Linked DNA regions of Homo sapiens. The protein of the gene in region 2 interacts with the protein of the main gene of each other region in a pairwise test. Each region holds a gene or a part of one and is shown on either strand. Other genes may lie near its edges.

Region 1 (3,653 bases), on a different chromosome or scaffold from region 2:
TAGGTGCTCTCGCTCCCTCCATAGCAGTAAACTCTATGTGATGACCACTAATTAATAACCTGTATTCCCCTGGTGATCCTGGGAACGAAAGTGATTTCATAGTGAGGACTTTTTTTTTTTAATTAAATTTAGGCTTGAGGGATGGTGTTTGTTCTTTGTTCATGTAAGACAGTGTCTTGCTTTGTCACCCGGGCTGGAGTACATGATTGAGGCTAACTGCAGTCTCGACATCCTGGGCTCAAGCAATTCTCCCACCTCAGCCTCCCAAGTACCTGGGGCTACAGGCACATGCCACCACACCCAGCTAATTTTTTAAATTTTTGTAGAGATGGGGTCTTAACTATGTTGCCTGGGAAATCTGGCTTTTTAATAAAGAGTCTTAGTCATGAATAGAATATTTCCTTTCAATCCATTATTTAAATGAATTTTAAAGGTGCCTTTTTTCTCCTCCTTTTTTTTTTTAGTTTAATACAATTTTTTAGTAAAATGAAGAAATGGATGGACATGTCAAATCTACCACAAGAATTTCGTGAACGTATAGAAAGGCTAGAGAGAAATTTTGAGGTGTCTACTGTAATATTCAAAAAATATGAGCCAATTTTTTTAGATATATTTCAAAATCCATATGAAGAACCACCAAAGTTACCACGAAGCCGGAAGCAGAGGTGAGCCCTTAATCCTTATATAATTGACATAAAGATTATGATACAAACTAAGAGAATATACTTTTTTGAAAGTCTGTTTTTTATGAAAAGTATTCCTGCAAAGAACTTAATTATTTTCTTTTTAAATCCATGTACAATTATCCATATTTGGAAATTCAGGATAATACTTTTACTTATTTTTCTTTCTGTTGTTGTTTTTTTTTTTTTTTTTTTTTTTTTGAGGAGTCTCATTCTGTTGCCCAGGCTGGAGTGCAGTGTCCTGATCTCGGCTCACTGCAACCTCTGTCTCCCAGGTTCAAGCAATTCTCCTACCTTAGCCTCCTGAGTAGCTGGGATCACAGGTGTGCACCACCCCGTCTGGCTCATTTTTTGTATTTTTAGTAGAGACCAGGTCTCACCGTGTTGGCCAAGGTGGTCTCGAACTCCTAACCTCAGGTGATCTACCCACCTCGGCCTCCCAGAGTGCTGGGATTACAGGCATGAGCCACCACACCCAGCCCTATGTTCTGATTATTTTATGCAGGTTGGAAAGGCTTACTTAAGTCCATTTCATAAATAATAGATTACTTTTCTTCATGAATGGAATTTCATGTGTAATTTGATCTATTTGATATTTACATTTACTATTTCAGTTTACATGATATTTAGCGAGCTAGTCAGACAAAAAGTAATTTTTTTCCCTTTTTAGGAGGATTCCTTGCAGTGTTAAGGATCTGTTTAATTTCTGTTGGACACTTTTTGTTTATACTAAGGGTAAGATGACACTTTCAGTGGTCTTACATTTCTACTCTGGGAACTTGGTGCTATTTGACATGAGAGGTTTCTGGTTTTTGTGTCTTTTTTTTTTTTTTTTCCCTTATAAAGGTAATTTTCGGATGATTGGGGATGACTTAGTAAACTCTTATCATTTACTTCTATGCTGCTTGGATCTGATTTTTGCCAATGCGATTATGTGCCCAAATAGACAAGACTTGCTAAATCCATCATTTAAAGGTAAGACCTTTTATTTATTTTTGAAAACTGATTATCAGTTTTTGGAAAAAGATTTTTAAAAGTTGACTATTTTTTTTTCCCTCTGCCCTTCCTACACTGTCAAACTAGGTTTACCATCTGATTTTCATACTGCTGACTTTACGGCTTCTGAAGAGCCACCCTGCATCATTGCTGTACTGTGTGAACTGCATGATGGACTTCTCGTAGAAGCAAAAGGAATAAAGGAGCACTACTTTAAGCCATATATTTCAAAACTCTTTGACAGGAAGGTACTGTACTTATAATTAGATGACTGAGATGTTTACAGATCACCAGTAATGTGAAAAGAAAAAAATGTTTTAAGCAAGTTCTCAGCATTATAGAACTTAGGGTCAGGATTCCCAGGCTTTAGCCTCTACTGTGATTCAGAATTTCCTTATGATCTTGTGTGATGTGAGAAACAGAGCTGTTGAAAAATGTGACCAACTATATGTACTGTTGGGTAAATGTACTGTCAGAGGCAACCGTAGGAGGTACTGATAAAGAATTGTAAAGAATAGAACATCAGAGTAGGGCTGACAAATAATTAGGAAAAACAGGAGGTCAGAATAAGCTGACTAATTTACTGCCACAATTTGAATAACTGCTGACTGTTGACTAAAAGTAGGATGATGTATAACAACCACAGTTTTAATTCCATGTAAATCGAGCAGAAAATCCATGATAGTTTTGTAGCCACTTGTAGGCTATCTGTGTGCATTCTGGACATTGTCTCCTTGGTAATTAACTTAGCTATTTCTACATTTATGAATTGGCTTGTTCCTTTGGGTTTCAATTTCTTATTTCCCCAACGTCGAGCCATTAAATGTAGTTAAGCCTCAAGATTTCTCTTTGGTAAAAGGAGGGGTTTGGATTATGGATCCCACTTTTCAAATATTATGAGATTTTTCTTTAAGCATAAATTCTTCCCTTACTGGTTTCTTCTTCTTTTATACAAATTTTTGTATTCAGTCTTGTGTTCCTCAGATATCTATATTATGGCCCATTGTCTGTATGCTAAACATCTCTAGCAAAGTAAACTTTTTTTAAAGGATCCCAGGGACTGGGCGCGGTGGCTCACGCCTGTAATCCCAACACTTTGGGAGGCCAAGGCAGGTGGATTGCTTGAGCCCAAGAGTTCCAGACGAACCTGAGCAACATGGCAAAACCTTGTCTCTACAAACAATACAAAAATTAGTTGGGCATGGTGGTGCACAACTGTAGTCCCAGCTACTTGGCACGCTGAGGCTGCAGTGAGCCATGATTGTACCACTGCACTGCAGCCCTGGTGACAGAACAAAACCCTGTCTCAAAAAAAAAAAAAAGTTAAAAAAAAAAGTTATTTGCATGCTAAATAGTTTATCCTAGTCTGAAAGAAATATTTAATAATTCTGTTTTGTGTGTGTGTTATAACAATATGGAAATTTAGATAAATTTCACGTTTGTGTGTGTATTAATATGCTTAATTATATGGTGTCCCAAAATAATTTTTTGTTCACAGATATTAAAAGGAGAATGCCTCCTGGACCTTTCAAGTTTTACTGATAATAGGTAAATATCTAGTACTAATGGTGCCTGGCTTATCACAAGCTGTCATATTTGTTGATTTGTTGAAATTTGTTAAGCATAACAGTATATCAAAGTAAGACCTCCAAATTCAAGTTCTCTCTGCTTTAGTGGCATTGAATGTTTATTATCACTAAGACTTGTTGGCTTTAAATACATTTATTTTAAGAAATCAAGGCCAGGCACGGTGGCCCACACCTGTAAACCCATCACTTTGGAAGGCCAAGGCAGGCAGATTGCTTGAGCTCAGAAGGTTGGAGACCAGCCTGGGCAACATGGTGAAACCCTGTCTCTACAAAAAATACAAAAATCAGCCAGACGTAGTGGTGTGAGCCTGTGGTCCCAGCTACTTGGGAGGTTGAGGTTGGAGGATCGTTTGAATCTGGGAGGTTGTGGTTGCAGTGAGCCGTG
Region 2 (3,653 bases):
TGAAAAATGTTTCACAGTGGATTAAGTTGTGGGAGGACAGCAGTAGGAACATTTATGTTTTATTCCCAGATTAAAGTTGATTGGGGTTGTTATGTTTTGTGTAGTTTTTGGAGGCATTTCCCTTTCTTAGAGTATCATGTGATTTATGGTGATAATTAGGCAGAAACTTGTCTTCCCTACAGATGCCAAGATTATAGAGGGACTTGCTCTCACCAGAGACCAGATGACAGCATCCGTAGATATTTTTAGAATGGACCTCATCATTTATTTGGTCTCCCCATTTCATTTTCTTTGTATCAGCAATTGATTTCAAACTTGTTTATTGGGCAGGGAGGGGAGAGAGGGCGTCTTCCCTTATTAATGAAAGTCACTGATGGGACAGAACAGCATCTTTGTATTTATTGTTAATTGGCATATTGCCTAGTACTTGCAGAGTAAACTACAATTCCATCAGCTGTAGCTTCATTTTCTTTTCAAAAGTTTTGCTTAATCTGATGTGTTTTCTTACAGCATTTTAAAATTTTATTTATTTATTTTGAGACCGGGTTATGAGACTAGTTTTTGTATTTTTGGTAGGGACGGGGTTTTGCCATGTTGCCCAGGGTGGTCTCCAACTCCTGGTCTCAAGGGACCGCCCCCCTCAGCCTCCCAAAGTGCTGAGACTACAGGCATGAGCCGCCATGCCTGGCCCCTTAATCCGATGTGTTTTTAAACTAGAAGAGCATCGACACATACACATAAATCTCACGGTTAACTAAATAACCGTATAACTAAAATGTCATACTTTAAACTATTTAAGAATGACATGAGCTTTCTTAAAACCCATGAAACTTGTACCCAAGCTAAGTATCATTGACTTTCCCAGCTCAGTAGCTGGGTTTCATCACTTAATATGCTCCCTCTACTCTTTCTGTCCTTGATTGAATCAGATAAGCATGTACAAACATTGAGCCACAGGAGAGCCATTAAAAATCTAAGACAGATGAGCTGCTGCTTTCCTTTTGATTATTTTTATTACCCCAGTTTTCATTGTAAATGGTGATTCTGGTGTTCCTCTGAGAAGGTTAATTGTATTTCTGTTCAACATTTATCTTCTATATTTTCAGTGTTTTACAATCTGTTTTCCTTCTGTCACAGAGGAAACCAAAGGCCTTTCTGTTCTCTGGAGTGGGAGTTTCTGTATTAAATTTGTCCTCTGCAAGAGTTGCCTCTATACCTGGGCCAAATCCTCTACCAATTCAGCCTATAAGCACCAAGGTGGTTTCCTGAGCAGGCCTCCCTGGGAGGGCATTGCCTGGGGGACCTCAGCGGAAGCTGTAGAACATAGCTTCACAGGTGACCCCAACCCCAATCTGCAGAAAGGGAAAGTGGTGATTCACACATCTCGTTTTTAATAATGGAGTTCTCTGAAGATTGGGGCCTTTTGATGAAGGAATGGATATTAAGCCTGGGGACTGTGGTTGGTTAGTGCTTTAGACTGTCCCACATGGGCCTCCTACTCCTGGCTTTGGGGTGATGGCCTGTTCTGCTCAAAATTGTGCTCTGTTAGGGGCTCATGGGTGTCCTCTGTCCTCTTTCCTGCTGTGTTGGCCCAGCCCACATTGGAGCAAGCCACACTCCCTGTCTCTGTACTTGGGGAATGAAGTGTGTCACCTTCCCATTATGCACTGGCTTCTGTGGCTGCATAATTAATACCCAAGGGAACTGGAGAGAGATCTGAATTAGGTAGTACTTTACAGCTTCTCCCTCGGCGCTTACAGTAAGTCAGGATGGGGACTTGGGGATGGGAGTCCCCTGATGACTGATCACATAGTGATGTTGGATGGTGGTTTATTAAGTGTTATTGTGAGGGGAAAAAACCAAATCCTCTTCCAGAGGACTGTGCCTGTGAAACGCTATCTAATCATTCATACTTTGCAGGGCAAGGTAGAGTAGTTAGAATAGCACTGACTTTAGCAAGCTACGGTCTTCACAGATGCTGAGATCTAGTATTTACTTCAGCTTTTACTCCCTCTAGAATCAACAAGCCATTATTTTATAGTCCAAGGTAATATTATCTAGTAGCTTTACAAAGCAAAGAATGCCCCAAAAAACCATCAGCCAGGGAAACTAAAACCTAGGGATAGACAGGAAGAAGAAAGAGGCTTCTTTTTATACTTTATTGTCCCTACCTCCAGTAAAACAACCTAAATTCTTCAATTTGGAGCTTTAACAAGGATAAGTAAATATGACCATGGGCATGTAACATTGTAAATACTAAGTCCTGCTGTGTTTGCAAACATTGAGAGTGAAAGGTAAGATTGCCAGCAAGTGCAGAGTCACAGAAGAGATTGAAGTTACAGTACACTCATGAGAATTCCTGATGACCCTACGGTACAACCTCTAAAGGTGGGAGAAGCAGATGTATATAATGTGATTTTGTGTGTGAGTTTTTTGATGCTTTTTTCATTACTTATTTACCTTGTCTGGAGAGAAAAGCACGAGTTCATGTTGTTTCACTACCACTTTTCTATCCATTTCTTGGCCTAGAGCCGTTTCTTTACTACCATAACTGCCAACACTATCTCCATAAACAAAGAATCTTATGTCTGGAGGTCTGTCATGTCACGTCCTTTTGCTATTAAGACAGCTCTATGAATATACTTTTTTTTTTTTTTTTAATCCCTTAACTTTTCTGGGCCCAGTGGTCACATGACATCTGATAAGACTTGTATAAATTCAGATGCTCTAAGAGCACCTTTTTTGTGCCTTTCCATTGAAGACAAAATAATAATTGGAGGCAGAATAATAATAATGTTGTTGATTGTTAATGGGGTGTTTTATGGGGGATTTCTTGTCCATATATGTGTTATGTAATTTTTTTTCTCCAAATTTGTAATACAAAAATCAAATTCCTAAGCCAGGTGCATTGGCGTGCCTGTAGTCCTAGCTACTCAGGAGGCTGAGACGGAAGGATCTCTTGAGCCCAGGAGTTCAAGTCCAGCCTGGGCAACATAGCAAGACCCCATTTCTTAAATTCTTTTTTTTTTTTTTTTTTTTTTGAGACGGAGTCTCGCTGTCGCTCAGGCTGGAGTGCAGTGGTGCGATCTTGGCTCACTGCAAGCTCTGCCTCTCAGGTTCACGCCATTCTCCTGCCTCAGCCTCCCGAGTAGCTGGGACTACAGGTGCCCGCCACCGCGCCCGGCTAATTTTTTGTATTTTTAGTAGAGACGGGGTTTCACCATGTTAGCCAGGATGGTCTCGATCTCCTGACCTCGTGATCTGCCCTCCTCAGCCTTCGAAAGTGCTGGGATTACAGGCGTGAGCCACTGCGCCCGGCCCATTTCTTAAATTCTTAAGATGGCCCGCTTAGTAATTACTTACTCTTTTTATGGTGGGGAATAGGGGAGTCAAGATTACCCACACCCAGCACTGCAGACTTATTAAGGCCTTTATAGAAAGTGGCCATTTCATCTCCACTGGTGTTGGGGTATTCGTGGAAAAGGGTGGTAAGCAATTCAGTTAGTCCACATAGCCAGTAGGGAAGAACCAGAAAAGTATAACTCATCTACTTAGGATGAGCGGCTCTCCTTGTTTTAGCATGGAAAGTCCCATGTCCTAGGAAATCCCTCAGTCCGGAAGTCTAGAACAGAATCTTATCTGCACCTTGAACA

The links. Proteins that work in one complex are often made in the same cells at the same time.
Region 1: the proteins of FOXO3 (region 2) and RBL1 interact in binary tests that used the Homo sapiens proteins (3 or more experiments, as listed by UniProt).

The regions. Positions count from the first base shown.
Region 1 is NC_000020.11:37,064,998-37,068,650, reverse strand, and holds part of RBL1 (retinoblastoma-like protein 1), read left to right. Parts: intron 1-464; coding exon 465-665; intron 666-1,353; coding exon 1,354-1,418; intron 1,419-1,529; coding exon 1,530-1,658; intron 1,659-1,766; coding exon 1,767-1,927; intron 1,928-3,177; coding exon 3,178-3,227; intron 3,228-3,653. UniProt on the Homo sapiens protein: Key regulator of entry into cell division. Directly involved in heterochromatin formation by maintaining overall chromatin structure and, in particular, that of constitutive heterochromatin by stabilizing histone methylation.
Region 2 is NC_000006.12:108,675,851-108,679,503, forward strand, and holds part of FOXO3 (forkhead box protein O3), read left to right. Parts: intron 1-3,653. UniProt on the Homo sapiens protein: Transcriptional activator that recognizes and binds to the DNA sequence 5'-[AG]TAAA[TC]A-3' and regulates different processes, such as apoptosis and autophagy.